Regions from separate parts of the Homo sapiens genome. Here regions 1, 3 and 4 are each linked to region 2. The links come from fine-mapping of genetic effects on plasma protein levels. A gene starts in region 2. Each other region holds a variant in brackets. All regions are shown on one strand. Distances are from middle to middle.

Region 1 (5,347 bases), 63 kb after region 2:
TGTGGTTTCTGACAGCTAACTGGTGAATCACATAAACCATAGAATGTAATTGATTCTATCAAGAAGTAAAATCAAATGAAGTATAGATGGAGCATTCTGTGGACTGCTATCAATTTTCTCTAAAGAAAAAAAGAATTGGCTTCTGCCATGAATCTGAAGATTGTCTGTGGGTAAAATGCAAATGGAAAGTAAATTGTTCATGAATGAATTCTAGAAAAGCCCACTGGTATTCATAGAGAGAGAAAGTAAATATCTATATAGAAATTTTGGGAATAATAAAGTCAGATGTGCCCTACTATTAATAGGTTTAAACATTTTGATCATTTCCCTATCTTTATCTTGCTTTACTCACTACTTTCCAGGACTTTTCCTACCAGGCACTGTCAATAAATCATGTGCTTCTGAATTCCTCTGTCTCCCATTCTAGGGAACCAGACAGACATCAAATATGTATCTAAGTTGCCCAAGACAGGAGCCAGATACTCACTTTATCAGCCTTTGTGGTACACTGGACAACTGTTTTCCATATATTCCATTTCTCTTCTTGCTGTGCCACTCTTAGTGGGCTGAGTATACATCTCTGTGTTATTAAACTCAGGAATGGCCATGTGACTTAGTTTGGCCAATGAAATACTGGTAGAAGTAACACAGATCACTTTCAGATAGAAATTTTAAGAGCCACTGTAGTTCACTGTGTCTCTTTTCTCTTTGCCCCCAGACTGGTAATGTTGTAGATATAGCTTGCTCTGCCAGACTGGACCCTGGATTAGTGATAATCAGAAGCAGAGCCAGAGCTAACTTGCAATGGACAAGTAGCATGAGCAATAAATGTTAAACATAAACAGTAAACCATTGCTGTTACCAGCCTCTGTTGCAGCATGCTGCAGTAGTTCATTCTTTTTCATTTGCTGTGTGTGGTATTTCATTGTATGAATATTTCACAATTTATCCATTCCACTATTGATAGACACTTATATTTATCCAAGTTTTTGTACATTATGAATAAACTGCAATGAATTTTCTTGTAAAATGTATTTTAATGCATGTATGTAAACATTTCTTTTGACTATATAGAATTGGAATTACTGATTAATAAATCACATATATGTGCAGCTTTTGCAAGTACTGTCAAGCAGTTTTCCAAAGTGGTTGTAGCAGCATACTCCTTCACGAATAATGTTGGAGAGTTCTAGTTGCTTCATTTCTTTGCCAGCACTTAATAATATTAGTTTTCCTTCTTTAACTTTTAACTATTTGGATTGTTATGTAAGAATATCTCATTGTGGTTTTATTTGCATTTCTTAGATAACTAATGGAGTTGAACACTTTGTCTTATGGTTGTTGGCCAGTTGGAATCCTTGTTTGTGCAGTGAATATTTAACATTTTGTTCATTTAAGAAATTAGGTTGACATTATTTTTCTTATTGATTTGTAGGTATGAATCCTTTGTGCATACATGTATTGAAAATATATTCTATTTTTTAGAGTCTTTTTCTTAATCACTTCTGTTGATGAACAGAAAGTCTGCAATTTTAATGAAATCTAACATCAATATTTTTGTTTATGAATGTTGCTTTGAATATCCTCTTTTAAAAATCTTTATGTACCCCAAAATTATGAAATATGCTTCCTTGTGATCTTATAAAATATTTATAGTTATTTTTCACATTTAGATTTTTCATCCACCCAGAATATACTTTTGGTTGTCCTGTGAGTAGGAATCAAGATTCATTTTGGCCATATGTATATCCAATATATACAGCATCATTTTATTGAAAAGAAAATCTTTTCCCCACTCATTGCAGTGGCACTTTATCATAAATAAGGTAACCATTTATGTGTTGGTCTACATCTGGACCTTTTTTTTTTTTTTTTTGAGATGGAGTTTCACTCTTGTTGCACAGGCTGGAGTGCAGTGGCACGATCTCGGCTCAGTGCAACCTCTGCCTTCTGGTTTCAGGCGATTCTCTGGCCTCAGCCTCCTGAGTAGCTGAGATTACAGGCGCCCACCACCACGCCCAGCTAATTTTTGTATTTTTAGTAGAGATGGGGTTTCACCATGTTGGCCAGGCTGGTCTCTAACTCCTGACCTCGTGATCCACCCGCCTTAGCTTCCCAAAGTGCTGGGATTACAGGCGTAAGCCACCGCGCCTGGCCTATATCTGGACTTTTTGTTCTGTTCCGTTGGATTATTTGTCAGTCATTCAACAAAATCACAGCGTTTTAATTATAATAGATTTATAATAAACCTTGATTTTTGGTATTAAAATCCCCCAAATTTGTTCTTCCTCAAAATTTTTTATGGATATTCTTAACTCTTCGTATTTTCACTTAAATTTAGAGTCAGATTGCCAATTTGTACAAAACCTTTCTAGGATTTGTGTTGGAATTTTATTGAGCTCCTTATAGATCAATGCGGGGAGAATGTACATCATTAAATTGCCACCTTTCCAAGATCTGAAGTTGGTATATGTGTCTCTTTAAATGTTTAGTTTCTGTTAGTGAAGTTGTAGATTTTCGTGTAGAGATTTTGAACATCTTCTGTTACATCCTAAGAGTTTAGCAGTTCTGATGCTCTTGTAGATAGTATCTTCTTAAAATTTCATTTTCTAATTGTT[TGTTA/A]CTACACAAGAACAAATGATTCTGTATACTGACTCTATAGCTAGCTACCTTAGTAAATTTATGTTTTTATTTTAAAGTTTATCTGTAGAGTCTTTCGTATCATCTACATACCAAGCACATTGTCTGTAAATAATGAGTGTTCTAGATCTTCTTTTCCAGCCTTGACATCTCCTCTTTCTTTTTCTTACCTTTAGTTTAATATTGGGCATAAGGGATAATCACAAATGTCTTTGTTCCTTTCTCAATCACCAGGGAAAGCTTTCAAATTCTCATCGAGTGTGAAAATTGCTGTAACTTTTTCTCTTTGGCAAAATATTCTTCACCTGATTAAGAAATTTGCATTCTCTTTCTAGTTTACTAAAAATGTTTTTAATTGTAAATGAGTGTTGGATTTTTAAAATACTTTTTCTGCATCTATTGAGATCATCATTTTTCCCCTTTATTCTGTTAATTATATGTTGATTTAAAACTTCAAGCCAAACTCCCATATGGTGTATAAACCTTACTTGATTATGATATTATTATGTTTTTATAATTGTGGACTTACTTGACTAATATTTTAAGATATTAATGTCCATGTTCATAATAAAGATTGGCCTGTAATTTTAATTTCCCTTTTTTGTAATTAATTGTCAGGTTTTAGTATCAAGGTTATATTCACCTGGTGAAAGACTTGAGAGTTATTTCTTCTTTTTTTATTCTCCAAAAGTTAGTGTAAAATTTAGCATTTTTTCTTCCTTAAGTGTTTGGAATAATTCACTTATGAAGCTACCTGGGACTAAAGATTTCTTTAAGGGGGATTTTAAAGTATAGATTACATTTATTTAAAGAATATAGAAATATTACAATTAAATGTTTCTGCTTGTGTATGCTTTGATAAATTTAGCAATTCATTCTTTTCATTTAAATTTGCAGATTTAGTGGAATAAAGTAGTTCATAATATCCTTTTGTTACATATTTAGGATCTGCGGTAATATCCTCTTTATTTCTCACATTTAGAATTTGTTTTCTTTCTCATTTTCTTTCTGTCAGTCTTACCACAGTTTTATATCTTTCATTAGTCTTTTCAATAATCAACTTTTGAATGTTTTGTCCTAAGTTTTTATTGTAGTAAATTTCACATAGTATAAAATTCATCATTTAACCATTCAATGACATACAATTCAATGGCATTAAGTATGTTCACAATATTGTTCAACCATCACCATGATCTTGCGCCAGAATATTTTTCACCATCTCAGAAGGAAACCTATGTGCATTAAGTAGTTATTCCCCATCCTCCTCTCCCCTGCAGTTCCTGACAACTACTAATCTGCTTTCTGTCTTTATGGATTTGCCTTTTCTGGCTATTTCATGTAAATGGAATCCTATAATATGCTGCCTTTTGTGTTTGGCTTCTTTCACTTAGCATAATGATTTCAAGGTGCATCTATGTTGTGGCATGTATTAGGACTTTATTCTTTTTTTATAACTGAATGACACTTCATACAATGGATAGTCTCTCTTCAAGTTTGTTTTTTATTTCATTGATTGCTGATTTTATCTTCATTTCCATCCTTCTCCTTTCTTTGGATTTTTAAGCTTTTTGAGATGTGTGCTTAGACAATTGAAGTGAAGTGACATAGTTCTGTTAGCTTTCCCTTTTCGTACTTTCAGTTTCTGTTTTTAGGTGCACGTCAGTTTTGGTTTGCCCATATCTAGACATACAAACTTAGGGCTCCTACACTTCCTAATTGGATGACTTTGTATGAATGGGGATAATCGTATTGATCCTATCTCCTTGTCCAGGGTCTTGTGAGAGAATGTAAGGTAAAAGCATTTTGTAAACTAACTTCCAGACTTGGATAGTACCTTGTACTTTGCACTGCCATTGCTTTATATCTGCATAGTGCTTTCACAGGTTTTTAAAAATTTAATACAGCAAACCCACAGGAATTATCTCCATTTTACAGATGTTATTTCTGCTACTATAGAATTTTCAGGAAGTGACCATGAATTTAGTATTTAAAGCCCAGGGTTTTTGGGTTTTTTTTTCTTCCAGCTTTACTATAGCTGCCTCATGCAGAATGGTATTATTGGCATTCTTAGAACATTGGAATTTCACACTTTCAGAAACTTGAGAACATTGCAACAACTGCCAACAGGGCTCAGCATCCTCTGCAGATGAACAACACCAAGTGGTATAGTTACCCAATCAATCCTTTTGCACTTCTACAAAATTAAGCTTGGCAAACTTGGCTCTGGCTTTCTACCAATTCATTGACAGTTTTTACTGACTACTCCGTGAATTAGGCTTTTTGTGGGAAAATAAAAGAATGGGTTGATGTGATTGTTACCAAATATATTTAGGAAGAAGTATTTGAACATGTGCAAATAAATACTTAGCACATGAGGATCAAGGGAGGAAAGGAAAGGGATTCTAATAGTCAAGGTGAGATCTGAGTTTTTAAAGAAGTTTGCTTTTTAAATGTTTGGTTATACATTTCTGGTGATAAAAAAATTCTAAGTTTAAAACACCTTCATAACTTCTCATAACATTTAAAATCTTCACATAGCATGGACTCATACTCTTGTCTGCACATTTTAACATGTGTGAAATAGGAAATTATTGTATAATTAATAGTTTCTTAGAATTGTGTTGTAGATTAATTATAGTTTTTCTTTTTTAGTAGTACATAAAATAAAAGAATAATAGATAGTTATGTATTTAACACTGATGGCATT
Region 2 (5,347 bases):
TTCTTCATGCTATGCTGCAAACACAGTGATAAGGAACATGAGCTCTAGAGTCACCTGATCTGAGTCCAGATGGAGGCACTGACACTTAGTTATGTAACCTTAAGTGAATTATTACTTTACCTCTCTAAGCCTCAAAGCCTCACTTTCCTTCTTTTTAGTCCCATCAAACTTGCAGCAAGCAATTCACTTTACTTCTTTGTAGGTAAGGTTAATAAGAAGTAATGTGACAAGGCATGCAAACGCTGAGTGAAATAATAATATGACTATTATTATTTCATTATTCATTCCATTTATTTTTTATTCTTCTAATTTTTCTTTCTCCCAAGTCCATATTTTACATCCATCCATCTAATCATATTTATTGAGTCATTATTAAGCACAAAGTTCTATGGATGGCACGGGAAAACCCAGTGATCAATGCGATGGAGTCCTTCCCACAGGAGCCTACAATCTCAAGCAAAGTTCAGAATTAATTAGTGGTTAATCTTTACTGACTTCATAAAACGTATCAAGCACAGTGCAGAGCACTTGACACTCATTATCACATTTAATTTTAAGCTACCTATGAGGTGGACGTTCTTTTACAGAAGAGGAATCTGTAGCTCAATAAAGCTGAGTACTTTATCTAGGCTGGATCCAAACCCAGGCAGCCTGACTCCCAAACCCTGCATGCATGTCTACATCACACCCCAGGCCCCTCAGCTCTGTGAGCCCTCCTGACTTCGATTCCTCCTCTGCTTGCACTCTTTTAACATTAGTCATCTTAACAAGAACTCTAATCTATACAATTCAAGACGTTACACTGTCCTTTTAATACAACCCTTCTTCCATAGATTTTCTAGAGGCAGCATGGTAGAGGCAGCTCAGTTAAGGGCCCAGATTTTGGAGTCTGCTGCTTGACAGCTGCCTGACCTACAGCAAGCCACATAAGCAATCTGTGCTGCAGGTCTCACCTGTAAAATTGGGGTAAGGCTACCCACACTCCAGAGATTGTGTTGATAATTAAATGCGTTAACATAGGTGTCAGCACAGGCAAAGCACACAGTCAGTACTGCATAAGCGGTGGGCTTCATTATTCATCCTGTAATTACGTATTCATACTAGAATCATGTATCCCATAGGTCAGGGACCACCTTTTCTTTCCTTAATACCCCCAGGATTGGCAAATCTTGCTCTCTCAACAAATAGTTTACTCGGTGGAACCTAACAGAACTAATATTTCTTTCTGTCCGTAAATAAAAATAGATCATGCTTGAATGTGCTACTTTGCCCGAACTCCCCAAGTCTTCCCGCATCTTCAGTTCCTCCCCCTCCAACCTGGTGTTCATCAGGAGAGGGGAAAGAGCATTTCTTGCCTGGCAGGAACTCAAGACCTAGAAGAAAGAGGGCCTACCCTGCCAAGGAAATGACCTTCCCCTTCCTCGCCTCTGCTCCTCTTCCCGTTTCCTGTCTTTTCCTTCTTTTCTCCTGGTGTTTCCTTCTCCCGTTAACTATGGGGACAGACGCAGCTATTCACAAGTCCGTCTGGGCAGCACACTCCGAGGTAAGGCACGAAGGTCAGGAGACAGGTTCCCGTGCCCCAAATCCTGGAGAAGATGAGTTAAAGCTCTTCGCTTCGATTGCCTTCGCCCTTCCCGCGTCTCGGGAGCAATTCAGTGTCGCCTCACGTCTGGCCTTGCAGAAGTCCGGAGTTCCGGCTCTGAACTGGAGCTCCCCGCCATTCCCGGGCCCTCCGGTTTCTCCCTCAGGCCATCTGAGGAATTGAGGTAGGATTTCGCGGGTGTTAGGAGCAAACTCCCACCACAACTCGGTCCCGGGCTCCCTCTCCGTTGAGCCTTGACCTCTGCCCAAAAAACAAGGAATCGTGGGCGTGAAGGCGGCCTTGAACCCGGGCGGCGGGGCTCGGCGGGACTCGTCAGCGCCCTGCTGCGGCACCCGGGCCGCTCAGGTAAGTAGGAGGCGTGTGCGGGCGGGGCCGAGCGGGCCCCAATCCGTACGCGAGGCAGGAACCGCCCGCCGCGCCCCCGAGAGCTCTCGGCGCCGCGCAGTCGCCGCTGGGCACCCCGAGACCATGGGGAAGCTCGTGGCGCTGGTCCTGCTGGGGGTCGGCCTGTCCTTAGTCGGGGAGATGTTCCTGGCGTTTAGGTGAGTGGCATCTTGACAGGGCGTCTTCGACTCTCTTTCTCTCCTCTTCCAAGTGAGGTCAGGGGCTGCCTGGCGCCCCCTTCCTAGCGGGTAGGAAAGAGCAGCTTTGGAACCTCACTCCTCCATCTCACCCAGCAAACCGCCCCTTGAGACTCGCTTATGGGGAAAGTGAGCTACTTGCGTTTCCAAAGACTGCCGAGCCGAATTAGTCCCATTTATTTTTTGAAGGTTATGATCCCCCACTTTGCTTTCTGAAGGTCATGACCCCCTTTTACTTTCTGAACGTGATGACCCCTTTCCCAGCTCGCCCTCAACATTCTGCTTGGGAAAAAAGGACGTCCATTGGAAACGCCGGACTTGGGAGAGAGGATCAGGCTACCAGTTGGATGTTTACGGCTGACTGAGACATTGCCCAGGTCTGGCTAACCATGCAGAAGTACTGGGTTATGGAACCTATCCTAGATTTAAAGAGCTGGCCAGACAGCAGGGCAAACCAGCTGAAACCTGCAGGCGGTAACTGGCATTTTGTAGGCATTTGACCTTTTGAAGTGGAAGATACAATGGTGATAGCCAGCCTAGAAATGTCTCAGGAAAAGTCAATACTGGGCTAGAAAGAAGAACCTTTAAGTGATAATACACATTCATGAGTGGATCGAAAGCCTCTGCTTGCTTTCAGTTGTCTTTGAGTGTTTATGTATTTCTCTTAGTTGAAGCTGGTCTTCTTAGAGGATCACGTCTAGAATCTGTTGAGGTGCCTGGTGCCTATTAGTAATACTTCCAGTTTGAGAGTTTTATTGTTACATTTGCTCCCAGTGCAACCACATGGAGAATCATAAAATAATAGTAATAATAATAAAGTAGATCTAAGGGTATTTTTTTAAATAAATGACTGTAAGATAAGTATTGAGTCTTTCTGAATATACTTTAATAAAAATTTTAAATTATCCCTGATATTAGAAGAATGTGGAAACATTCCTTTTCACTCTGGAAACAAGAAAATTGTGTTGAAAAATAAATCGGCCAATTGTTTAAATTGTGGTTGGTTTAATGAATTTACATACTTGCGGAGTAAGTCAGCATAAAATTTAAAAATTAAAGCAAAAGTGATAGAGTTTGACTATTAGGAGACCCTGTTGAATTTTGGGAAAGCAGTTTGGAAGGAAAAGTTCAAAGGGCAAGACTGTAGGGGATTAAGTGCAGATTTATAACAGACGATACTTTAGAAAATTAGGGCTATTTCGTGCATTTAAATTAATAATATTGTTCAATTACTCATACTATTAAATAGTGTCTTTTATTTGGGCAGCAGAATTTTCCATGTTGAATCATATTATACAGTTTTTCAGCAATAACTGGGTAAGGTTAGCTGATATAGGTAAAATACCCACATAATGTCTACATTATGTAAATAAACATGAAAGGAAGTACCTACTTACTTGTTATGTCATTCATAAATTATGATAAAGATAGTTAACCAACACGAAGATGATTGAAGTCCACATTTAAACATACATTTTGAATGCTGTGCCTTGACTTCCAGGGTTGGGTTTTATCTTCTACAGAGAAAGGGTGAATGCCTCTCGAGAAGTGGAGCCAGTAGAACCTGAAAACTGCCACCTTATTGAGGAACTTGGTATGTATGTGACAGTACCAAGAGGAGCCAGCACAGCTTCTTGGTCGTCATCCACCTGACTGAGCCCTACCAGCTCATTTAATTACCTGTCACTACTTAAGCCCTCCCAGTGGGACATCTGCCCCGTCCACTCTGCCCCATGCAAGGTCTTCAGGGGTGTACTAAATGACATTCTTTGTGGGTTTTTCTCAGCACATTTCCTTACTGACATCTCTCCACATTACCTAAAGAATGTCATTGACCACTCCCTGGTTTTCCCCTCACTGAATGCTTCTCCTTTCCCATCTGTGGTATTTCACTCTCCTCCTTGTCCTCTGTTACCTTTCCTTTTTTTGCTTCTTTCTTCTTTCCTTCCTCCCTCCCTTTCCTTATTGTCATTCCTGGCTTCAAGTGTTATTTTTTTTCAAATAATATGACTCAGCCCCTCCCCTCAAGAACCTCACAGCAGGCTGGGCGCAGTGGCTCACACCTGTAATCCCAGCACTTGGGAGGCCGAGGGGGGCGGATCATGAGGTCAGGAGATCGAGACCATCCTGGCCAACATGGTGAAACCCCATCTCTACTAAAAATATAACAATTAGCCGGGCATGTTGGCGGCGTGTGCCTGTAATCCCAGCTACTCGGAAGGCTGAGGCAGGAGAATCACTTGAACCAGGGAGTCATCGGAGGTTGCAGTGAGCTGAGATCGCGCCACTGTACTCCAGCCTGGCGACAGAGCGAGACTTTGTCTTAAAAAAAATAATAAACGAAGGAACCTCACAGCCTACCTACCTTCTTTTAAAAAAATTCATAAAAAATCCATGGCCCAGTCCCTAACCTTTCAAACTGCAGCCCTTCTTTTTTAGTCAGTTAAAGGGCAGCTCCAGCTCAAACTCTCCCTAAGCTGAAATCTATTTTACATTTCTGTCGTTTTCTCCCTCATCCTCCCACCCACAACCAGCTCTGCTTCTAGACTTTTCCTATGTATGGTACCCCCATTCTCAAAAGATTCAGTTCAAAATCCAGGAACCATTGTTCCCCGCTTGTCCCTCATGCTTCTACGTGAGACATGGGCTAATCTCACCTACTAGTTAATGCCACACCTGCTTATTTGGGCTCCACAGCTCCAATTCTTCCTGACATTGCTAACAGAAAAATAAAATAAAATCAGGCTAGATTGTGTTCCCTGTTCTGGGAATATGTTCTTTCACCTTCTCACCTTTGCTTATGAAATTCCCTCCAAACTTACTGATTCCTCTGTCTCTGCTTACTAAAATCAGCTGCAAAATTCATCTCCTTCCTCTGAACTCTCACAGCACTCTGAAGCTCCGATTCACTTATGACACCTGCCACATGCCTTGTATTATAGCTAGCAGTGTTCTCTCTTTCACTATCAGATTGTAAACTCCCTAGGGCCAAGAACTGTGACTTATTTATTAGAATGTGATGAGATAGCTTATTTTGGGATATGATTTTCTATTTTATTGCTATATTTAAAAATACAGAAAAAGTACCCTTTTGATTTGAGTTTTCTGCCTTTTCTTGCCTCTCAATTTCTAAAAAATAAAGTAATCTGAACCTTGCACTCCC
Region 3 (5,347 bases), 35 kb after region 2:
ACCTTCATTCAATTTAAGGAAAAAGTTGTGACTTCGAAGTAATAAGATTGAGCCTATATATGTCATCTAGAAACACCAGTTTCATTATAGTCATAACTCATATTCAAAGCCTGTTTAAAGCACTTCAAGAATATTAAAAATACTACCCCATTATCTTCTTTTACTGTGGTTTAGAAAAGGATTGCAGTGGTACTTTCAAGGAGTGTGCATTTTTATACCTCTTCTCCAAAATAAAAGTGAGTGTTGTCTCTCATTACCACTTGCTTAAGTGTAAATGTCATTTACTTCAAAGGTATGTCTATGTAGCTGATGTAGCAGCTAAGAACATTCACATAATGGAAAAACATGATAACTGGGATTTAACTCAACTGAAGGTAAGAGTACCCTGTCTGGCCCACACAATCTGACTTCTTACCTTAGTCCCATACTTGACCCAGGAATGTGCCCCTTGAATGAGGAAAACATGGCTATTTGAGAGCAATGCCAGTGAGATTATGCATGCGTTTCTAAAATACAGAAGCAAAGCCCCCTAAAAACACCAACTTTAGGTGCCAGAAGAAGCTGTAGGGGTTGTGGGGATGAATAGGGAAGAAAGCGAGGAATCATTGAGACAATGTCTTCACTACTCCCTCTTTGTTGTAAGGTGATACAGTTGGGCACCTTAGTGGATAACCTGACTGTCGATCCTGCCACAGGAGACATTTTGGCAGGATGCCATCCTAATCCTATGAAGCTACTGAACTATAACCCTGAGGACCCTCCAGGATCAGAAGTAAGTTCCTATACCTCTCTGAGCTCACAGGCAAAGCTGCAAGAACAAATTTGTTGGGGTGACTTGGAAGAATTTAAGCCAGTCACATTTGGTGTTATAGAACTAAAGAAATTTTACGTATGAGAAAAGTAAAGTTTTTGACAGGTAGGGAGATAAGGTTCGTTAACTCTTTTAGGCCACCATTAACTTTTCAATAACTCTTGCTGTTGGGAATAATGGAAAAACATAAGCTCGATTATTCATATTGACCCAGATTGCCATATCGTATTTCCAATCAGGAGATAGTCTCTGAGCAGGTAGGTCTTGCAGTTAGACAAAGAGAGAGTTGTATATGGTACCATCTTCTTTCACACTGTCCAACATGAAGCTAAGATTAAAGGATTTAAATAACTGTCGCCTCAAAATAAAATGAGTTTTTGCCTGTAAGTTCTAACATATACGATGGTGTTGAAAATTGTCTTATTTTCAAGATATCATTTGTGTTATTTTAAAATATCTCTTCTAAAACAATAGCATAATCCATTGAATTTTCTACATTAAAAACAACATTATAAGACAACTGCATTTTCTATGGCATTAAGGTTAACAATTTAAAAATCTTTAGTGAATTTATATATAGCTATAAATTCTAGGCACACATACTCAGAGATTTATTCACAAAAATTTATTGAGTACCTGTAATGTGTCAGACATTGTACTTATGTTTAGGATATATCAGAAAAAATATACAGAGATCCCTGATCTTAAGAAAGGGGGACAAACAATGAACAATAAGCATAAGAAATAAGTAAATTACATAGTAACTTTGAAGATGGCAAATTTTATGGGAAAAAAGGCTCAGCAGAGTAAAGGGGATCAGGATTACTATATGCAGCAGGATGAGCAGGTCCTACTACTAAAGTCAGAGATCAGAGTAGGCCTCATTGAGAAAGTACAATTTGAAAAAAATTAAAATGTGTGAATCCACATTTGGTGATTTGAGAAACTGAAATTCAAATTCAAACCCAGTAATTGGCCTAGTGGGTAAATTAGGACATACAGTTATTTCTACTTCCAGTATTGCTGTCTTTCAGTTAAAAATATGATTATTTCTTTTTTTATTAATGTATTAGTCACAGCTTCTTAAAAAGAACACAAGAAATGTAAAAAGAAACAAAAGTCCAACCTAAGCCTAGAACCAGAATTGTTACCCTAAACTAGGAAGCAATCCTTGCCTCAGATATGTACCCCTAAGAGTGATAGACAAAACTTTCCTTTAAAAGCCCAACCACAATGTCTGTCTTAAGGAAATGAAATATGATACATAGGATTATTGGAGAATTGTTTAGGATCTTTTTCGTATCTCTATTTTCAAGTTGAATTATTTTTAAAATTTTAGATAAGACTTTTTGTCACAATTACTGACACCCTTTAATTTTGGTTGAATCTCATGTTTTGTACATGAAATCAAAGCTTAAGTATTTTTGTCTAACAAACCTGAGATGAAGGATCTCCCTTAAGATAAAAAAAAGAACAAACTCTGTTCTAATAAGAGATATCAATATAGACTCGTAACTCATAAATTTCTAATTGTTTTCCTTTAATTCCAAAATAAAAATTTTATTTTATTTTGTTTGAGTGAACTTCATCCAGCCTATTTGGAAGCCTGAGTGCTTAAATATACACTGATTAGCAAAGTTAAGTGTATTAATCCTGGGATCAATAACAGTACTAGGCAGTGATGTGTCAAATGAAATTCCAAAGTAGTATCCATTATTTATGCTTTCTAGCAACTTTGCAGATGTGAAGGGGCTCCAGCTGTGATGACTGCCATCCCATCAGTTACCATGTTGGGTTGGCTGGATAACTGGGTGTTTCTTCATTATTTTGTCTTGTTTCTCTCCCCATACTGTAATCTCAAAGGCAAGATTCTTCCCACAGAGGGAGGACCACCATCCACTTGAGAACTAAATAAGAGCATCTTAACTCCTTCTGTAAGGGATGCCTGCACTAAAAAAATTGTGTAAGTCATCCCTGAGGAATTTGGCTAATGTCAGAAAGCCAGTTCACTTTGGTGCATAGATATCTATGACATTAGTACTTTCATCAGAAGAAGAACAATTTATTGAAGATATACAGATTTTAGCTTCTGATTTCTGAAAAATAGATTTATCCTAGAATGTTTGGGAAGGACATCATGAAACAGGTGTTTACTCACATAATATACTAATAAACGATCTTTTCTCGACAGGTACTTCGCATCCAGAATGTTTTGTCTGAGAAGCCCAGGGTGAGCACCGTGTATGCCAACAATG[G/A]CTCTGTGCTTCAGGGCACCTCTGTGGCTTCTGTGTACCATGGGAAAATTCTCATAGGCACCGTATTTCACAAAACTCTGTACTGTGAGCTCTAGACTCTAGATAGTAAAAAAAAAAAAAAAAAGTCTACATATTTTGTAAAAGTAAACTGATAATTGTATGATAAGTGGCACTGTAAGTAAATAGCAAACACCAACCAGTGAGTGTGGCTTTTCTTATGGATAGAAGTAAAGGAGCAGACAGAGATTCCTTGATAGCCATCAAATTGCAAGTCAGGTTAATGACAGTCCAACAAGAAGCCAAACTTTACGGATCTTTGTTAGCAGCCCCAATGTTCTTTCTACAATAAAACATGTGGACTATGTCCAGTGAGGTCTCCGACTCACCTAGAGGTCCTTGGTAACTGGGTCCAAGTTTCCTCCTACAGTTTTGACGTTCTGGGTCTCCTACAGTCCAGACCAAGAGAAAAGCTAATGTTCAAGTATTTACAACCCCTGTTCTCTCCCCGCAGTTGTGCTGGGCACAGACAGTTAATTAAGTGTACCAGTCTGCAGATAAAGAATTAGCATCATGTGATTGCCCAAAGCCCTTAGAACTTGCATTCTCCCAGGGTACCGACACATAGGAAATTGGGTTCTGAGAAATCTGACAGTTGGGCCTCAGAGGCTACCTTAGGGCAGGGAGTGCTTATCTCTAATAGGCCCTTATTTGTATTGATGCTTGTATCTGAAATACAGTTGGCCCTCTGTAACTGTGAGTTCTACATCTATGGATTCAACCAACCAGAGATTGAAAATATTTGGAAAAAAATGGATGGTTGCATCCGTACTGAACATGTACAGACTTTTTTTGGTCATTAATCCCTAAACAACACAGTATAACACATATTTACATAATATTTAGATGATATTAGGTATTATAAGTGATCTAGAGAGTACCTACATAGGGGAATGAACATAGGTTATATGCAAATACTATGCCATTTTATATCAGGGACTTGAGCATCCGTGGATGTTGGTATCCATCAGAGTCCAGGAATCAATCCTCCATGGTTATTGAGGGACAACTGTTTTGCTAACCTACTGGGCTCTGAATCTTAGATGAAGCCTTAAGGCAGTTATCTTTGACTGCCTTTATCTTACCCTTCTGGTTTATTCAATAAACAGTTATTAAGCAACCTCCAGTAAATTTGGCCCTAAGGAATCTGAAATGAGTAGAATGGTTCTGGCCTAATGTCCTATCTTGAAGACCAACCTTAAACTTAATTTGATGAGAATGAATAGAAGTGTCCTTTTTTGGTCCCAAACCAGTACAACCTTTAGCAAACAAACCATTAATTAAAGTCAGAGCACCCAAGCACCTCCCTTCCCTTTTTGTGACTTTTATTCGGGAGTGGTTGGTTGATGCTTTTTCTCTTTTGGGGAGACCATTTTATATGCAAAAGAACATTGCTCAGTTTTATGTAGGTTTGCTGAAAAGTTTTGCAGGGTAAAATTCTCCTTTTTTCCAGTGTAACCCATTGTGATTTTGACTATAAGACTTTGTAGTTTTCATTGCTTCAAAGAGGAATAAACATTCAGCAGAATGCTATAGTCAGTTATTAGATTTTAAATTTCAAAAGCCTAGCTATCAAGAGAACACAGAATAAAAAAGACATTAAAGACATAATTTAAGAAAATAAGTAGAGTCAGTTTTGAAGAATATAATAGTCTTTGTTTTAGTCCCTAGCCCTCATACTTACTATATTATAATGTTTACCAGACTAGGGGAGAATAAAGAGAGATAGGAAAAGACAAAGATAATTTAGATGCTGGTAAGTTCCTGAGAATTGATCCTGCTCTGCCTTCTCCTCAGGCCAAGTTAGAAAGGCTGGGGGATAAAACTTTCCTCAGGAAATTTGGGTGATCTGATTGCTGAGGGACTAATGTGTCCTTTCCCTGGGAGGGCCTGGGAAAGTCACAAAGCCTTAGGGATTCTCTGTGCTCAGCCTGATGAAAAAACAGAGAAGAAATGCTAGTGTGATTTACTGGGGATGGCATCACACCTACACTTGAACTTGGCACAGAAGCAAATTCCCACGTGCCCAGAGGGGTATGGGGGTTAGCAGAGAAAGAACTGATAGACTTAAAAAGGTCTTGCTGTCAGGAAAAAGAAAATAAGTAGTCATCTGATTCAAATGAAGACCGAAGTTTAGACGGTGACATCAAAGACCAGCTGTCTCCCATGATGCTTTAGCTCTCCCTGCTGGATTTTAGAGAAAACTCCCAGGATTGGGAGGGGG
Region 4 (5,347 bases), 70 kb after region 2:
CTGAGGAAGTGGTTATTTAACAACCACTGTAGAAATATGTCATTATTCTAATAACCAGTAATTCTGTACTGGTGCTAACCATTTGATATCAGCACTGAGGTCTTAGTAACTGGTGCAGAGAGAGGGTTCAGGAGAAGAGGGTGTGGAGGAAGTCTACTCTAGATGGTAATATTGGGAAAGGCCTCTCAGAAGAAGTGACATTTAAGCTATGACCTGAATGAAGAGAAAGAGAAATGCAAGGGGTAGTTGGGAAGTTAAGTCAGGGGGATGGGAAGAGGATTCTAGCCAAAGAATAGCAAAGACAATGATGGTGAAGTGCAATAAACTTGGTGTGTGTACCGAATGGTACAAAAGCTAATGTTGCTGCAACGTTATGCTGAGTGAATTATAAGAAATTAGGTCAGATGATAAGCACAGCCCAGATCTTGTGGGGCCTTTCAGGCCACAATAAGAAAATAAAATGAGAAGCCACAAGAGGGAGGATTTTAAGCATGGAAATGATATAATCTGATTTACATTTTTAAAGGATTACGTGGGCCTTGGTAAGAAGAATGGATTTGTGGGGAGGGTGATTAGGGAGAGAACAATGGAGAATCTGTTCTAGCCTGGAGATGATAGCAGCCTGAACCAGAGTAATGGCAGTGGAAATGGGGAAAATTGGGTTGATTCAAGATTATTTGAAAGTTGTAGTGGTTTCAAAGAGCTATCTATACATTCTTTGATATGTGGGCTAGGCATTTTTGCACTGCTATAAACACCTGAGGCTGGGTAATTTATATAAAAAAAGTTTTAATTGGTTCATGGTTCTGTAGGCTGTACAGGAAGCATGGTGTCAACATCTGCTCAGGTTCTGGTGAGGACCTCAGGAAGCTTAAAATCATGGGGGAAGGTGATGGGCATCACTAGCATGTCACATGGCAAGAGAGGGAGTGGGGGTGGGGGGAGGTGCTATAGTCTTTTAAACAACCAAATCTCACGTGAACTCAGAGCAAGAGAACTCACTCATTACCATGAGGATGGCACCAAGACAATTCAGAGGGATCTGCCACCATGACCCAACACCTCCTACCCTGTCCCACCTCCACCATTGGGGATCACATTTCAGCATGAGATTTGGAGGGGACAAACATCCAAACCATATCAATATGCCTCAAGGCATATGAAGGGGAGCCTCAAAAGGTGAAGTTTAATTCTTCTCACCTTGAATGTAAACTGGAGTTAGCAGTTTGCATCTAACAAACAGAATATGACAGAAGTTAGGGGATGTCATTTCAGAAGTTAGGTTAATAAAAGATTGTGGCATCCATTTTGGAGGCATGCTATCTCACTCTTTCAGATTGCTCATTCTAGTGAAAGTCAGCTACCTTGTTCTGTTGTAGTTCTGTAGAGAGGCCCACGTATCAAGGGACTGAAGTATCAAGGGACTGAAGTCTCTAAAGAGCTGTGTGAGTAATCTTGGAGGCTGATCTCACCTCCTTCACCCACTCCAGTTGAGCCTTCAGATAAGATGGCAATTCACACTGACAGCTCAGCTGCTAACTCATGAGAGACCTTGAGCCAGAGGTATCTAGCTGTGCCATGCCTGAATTCCTGACCCACAGAAATGATGAGATAATAAATGTTTGTTGTTTTTAATGGTGAGACTTTAGTATAATTTGTTATGCAGCATACGATAACTAATACAAAATAGAGCCTATAGGACTGACTGATCTGTTTGGTGCAAGAGGGTGTGAGGAAAAGAGATGGATGAAAGAAGATATGTAGATTTTGGACTTGAGCAACTGGATGGTAGTGATGCCATTTATTGAAGTGTGAGTTTGGGCAGGGGGGATTAAGAGTTTTCCTTTGGACACATTTTGAAAAGACTGTTAAACACCCCAGTGGGCATGTCAACCAGGTAGCCTGCTGGGCCCTGCCCAAATTCCTTATGCACTGTTTATGAGCATAAGAAAATGATTGTTTGGTTTAGCAGCTAACCTTGTGAAATATCTCCAATCTTCCATTCTCACCTTAACCCATTCTAATATGGTTTGTGTTCTTTTGACTCGTGTAGAATTTGTTCTTATTAAACCACCTATTGTATCCATGTTATCTAATTCAGTAGTTACTTCTCTGCCATAAGCATACTCAACTCATAGCCACATTGGACACAGATCATCATTCCCCCTCTTTTCGAATACTCTTCTCTTTTGGATTCATTGGTTCTACTTCTTAGGTAGATTCTTCTGCTCCACCTGGTGTTAACCAGGGTGGCTTAGCCAGTGGTATTCAGTTGGTGGCCAGGCTGTGGTGGCTGGGCTTGTCTAATAGCCCACTTCATTCATTTCTGCTTCCTTGGTGCCGATGGTTAAGAGGTTGGCTTCAGCTGACCACTTTCCCTCTCCATATGTTCATGGCCTTTCATGTGAATGCTCCAGTGGAGTGGTCAGGTTTTTTACATAGTAGCTCAAGGCTTAAGAGCAAGTGTTCAGAAGGAGCAGAGAGAGAGGGCAGTAGTTACAATGTGAGGCCAAAGAAGCTTCCCCCCAGAAAGCTAAAGGTGATAAGTAAAGCATGTTGGTATTGGCTGGCAATATTCCACAAGAGATGAAAGGACAGATATTGCAGAAGAGAGAAGGTATAACTGGGACCAAAAGCCTTGAGAAGGAAAGAGACATGGAGCAAATCATTCACAGTAACAGCAGACAGCAGAGAAGAGA[G/C]ACATGGTTGTACAGAGGCACCTCCTTTGGGTCTTTACTCAAATGCCCCATTATCAGTGAGAACTTCTCTGACTGCTATTCTTCAGCAGAGGGTATTCCTTATCCCCTTTCTTGCTTTATGTGTTTTCTCCATAACATATGTGCATATCCATAACACACACATGCATCACCTAGAGCATTATATATGCCACAGTGACATGTTTTGCTGATTTCTCAATTGACTCCCCCCATTGGAATGAACGTAAGCTTGAGGAAGACGTTTTGTCCTGTTCTGTAGCATCTAGAACAGCGCCTGGCACATAGTAGGTACTCAATAAATGCCAGCTGCATGAGGAAATGAATGAGCTGTGTGGGGGATGTACTTGAGTGAACTCTAAAGTCAGAGTGGTGTTGAGAGAAAAATGCTTGAAATCCAGATGTTGGAAGGTGACACAGAGTAGTAGCCTGGTGAGAACAGTTAGATCTTAGGGGTTCCTACTACAGCCCTCCCTTCCGCACCTTTTTGGCTGTCACCATGATCAAGCTACTGAATCTCTCTGAGACGCAAGGACCGGGATGGCACAAAGTGAGTGCTCACCAAAGCTTGACTGTCCTTTCCCATGGCAATTTACTTCAGCTTGTTTGATTTCCCCTCCCCGACTGGACTAGGCACCTATTCTCTGTCTTCTCTCTTTACAGTTGGAAGGAGCAAAATGGGACTTTTGGCTGAAAGTGCTGAGCTCCTGCGGTGGGGGCTGACCGCAAGCCACGCCTTCTGTGCACCTGGTCGGCCCAGCTAGCTGCCGACCCGGCGGGGAGGGGCGGGGCGGGCCAATCGGCGCTGCCCCAGCAGGGCTGCGGCTGCAGGCAGGCAGAGCCTCCTAGCCCGTCGGTGTCTGCGCCCATCGATCCCTTTGTCTATCCCCGACCATGGCGAAGCTGATTGCGCTCACCCTCTTGGGGATGGGACTGGCACTCTTCAGGAACCACCAGTCTTCTTACCAGTAAGTTGGGTTGTGGTGAGGGCTGCAGCCTTCGTCCTCCTCACTCCCTGCCAGCTCCACGAGCCCCCAGAAAGTTGGGTCCAGGCTGTTAACAGAACATTTACAAGCAGGTGCTAGATGCACACTCTGCGGGGGTTTCATAAATGTTTGTCCAGCCGTCATGTGTCACTTGAAAACAAACTCTTGCTCATGGCCTGAGACATGGGATAAGGAGGCAATTGCCAGGGGTGTGAGTGCCCAGGTTGTCAGCATACACGAATTAATTTTTCATGAAGATTTGTGTGCCCTGGCTACAGATTCACTTCTCAACCTGGAAAGAAACAAACTAACCTGGCTGGGGGTTCTCCTGATATTTTGTGTATTAGAGAAAGGAGCCCCTGTCGCTTCTGCGCCTTGACTGCCTGGCCATGGCAAACCTTCCAGGCTTGAAGATTCTCAAATTGAGGCTACTGAGGGCCACAGCAAAACTGCGTGTGGACCCGAGCAGGTGGAGCTAACGTGTGCTGTGATGGTTCGCTTCAGTGGGGGCAGGCGGGGAAGAGGGAACCCTGGAGCCAGCATCTGATGTCCTGGGGTTTAGCTCTGCCCCATGAGTATGCGATTTGGGCAAATCACTTTACATCTCTAACCTTAGCTGCTTCAGTAAACTGGAAATAGTAATACACACTGCCTGCGACAGAGTAGCTATTCAATAAATGTTAGTTCCCTGCTTCCCTTTAAAGTATTTAATAAAGGGTTAAGTGCTATACAAGGGGGGTGGGGATATTTTAAGAATGTATCAAAAGTTTCATAACTTTTAACAGGAGTTCAAAGTCTACAGATCATCCTAGTCTCTAAGGCTTAGTCAACAATGCCTTATTTACTTTAAAGTAAAACCTAATAAAAATTAAATATAAAAAAATTATATGAGCTTATGGACTAATTAGAAGCTTACATTCAGAATGGGTTTTTACTATTTATTGTGGATGTTTTTCTAATTTTTTTAAGTTACAGAGTGCAGAAAAAAAGTAAGAAGCAGTTGGTATTCTTGGCTTTTAAATCATGTAAAAATTACAGTTTGTGAGTTTTTATTAATCACAGTGCTGGTGGCTGCCAAAGGAGATTATAGGTATAGATAAAAATATATAGATAAAGGATGGGTTGCTGAGCCTCCTGGAGTGACCCAGACAGAGGAAGGAAGGGAAATTTTACCCACTGTTGGAAACCCCTAAAACCTAGCTACTCAACTGGGTCTGGGGACCAGATGCCTGAGCATCACCTAGGGGCTCCCTGTACAGGCAGAATCTCAAGCCCTACCCCACACTATTGAATCAGAACCAGCGTCATGGAACAAACTCCCTGGGGGATTAGAGATCATGAATCTGCCCCAGGGAGAGAAGGCAAGAGATGATATCATGAGGCCTGCATCAGGAGCAAGCCAAATCCCCAGGATAGATGCATCCTTTTTTCTTCAGACTTGGAGTGTATGTGTGTGCGGCTCACAGGAAGCTATATATGCCTGGGCTGGAGGGAACTTAAGGAAGCACACAAGGGATGCCTCAAGAGATTTCTGAGTTTCCCAGGTGGGAGCAGTACAGAGAAAAGAACTGAGAGAGTTCCCCTAGACCACGAGTCTCCCACCCACGAGTCTCCCACCTTTGTAGTCGGCTGTATGTGCCGCACAAG

Direction of the effects. Positions count from the first base shown, and alleles are read on the strand shown. Strength reflects both the effect of a copy and how common the allele is.
With allele TGTTA in place of A in region 1, the plasma level of the protein whose gene starts at base 2,047 in region 2 is higher (weak association).
In carriers of allele G in region 3, the plasma level of the protein whose gene starts at base 2,047 in region 2 tends to be higher than with A alone (moderate association).
As copies of C replace G in region 4, the plasma level of the protein whose gene starts at base 2,047 in region 2 goes up (moderate association).

What was found. PIP is the posterior inclusion probability: the model's chance that the variant is causal. Protein levels are from antibody-based Olink assays in UK Biobank. Linkage for the fine-mapping came from a reference panel and not from the study's own genotypes, which makes the PIPs less certain.
Region 1: its variant is fine-mapped to the plasma level of the PON3 protein (UK Biobank, PIP above 0.99).
Region 3: its variant is fine-mapped to the plasma level of the PON3 protein (UK Biobank, PIP above 0.99). The variant lies in the coding sequence of PON3. If it changes the protein, the assay may bind it differently, which can mimic a change of level.
Region 4: its variant is fine-mapped to the plasma level of the PON3 protein (UK Biobank, PIP above 0.99).

The regions. Positions count from the first base shown.
Region 1 is chr7:95,329,804-95,335,150 of GRCh38, reverse strand. No RefSeq gene overlaps it. Among named protein-coding and RNA genes, the nearest start is that of PON1, 7.9 kb to the right of the region's middle. The variant TGTTA/A (reference allele first, on the strand shown) is at 2,619.
Region 2 is chr7:95,393,075-95,398,421 of GRCh38, reverse strand. It overlaps PON3 (paraoxonase 3), which reads left to right and starts at 2,047. Exons shown (of 9, transcript NM_000940.3): 1 at 2,047-2,145; 2 at 3,708-3,778. The coding sequence starts at 2,072. It overlaps LOC107986822 (a long non-coding RNA gene), which reads right to left and starts at 1,950. Exons shown (of 2, transcript XR_007060439.1): 1 at 1,394-1,950.
Region 3 is chr7:95,357,787-95,363,133 of GRCh38, reverse strand. PON3 (paraoxonase 3) reads left to right here. Exons shown (of 9, transcript NM_000940.3): 7 at 293-374; 8 at 644-772; 9 at 3,003-3,262. The coding sequence ends at 3,161. Among named protein-coding and RNA genes, the nearest start is that of PON3, 36 kb to the left of the region's middle. The variant G/A (reference allele first, on the strand shown) is at 3,067.
Region 4 is chr7:95,322,737-95,328,083 of GRCh38, reverse strand. It overlaps PON1 (paraoxonase 1), which reads left to right and starts at 3,552. Exons shown (of 9, transcript NM_000446.7): 1 at 3,552-3,682. The coding sequence starts at 3,609. RefSeq lists a silencer at 3,429-3,608. The variant G/C (reference allele first, on the strand shown) is at 2,700.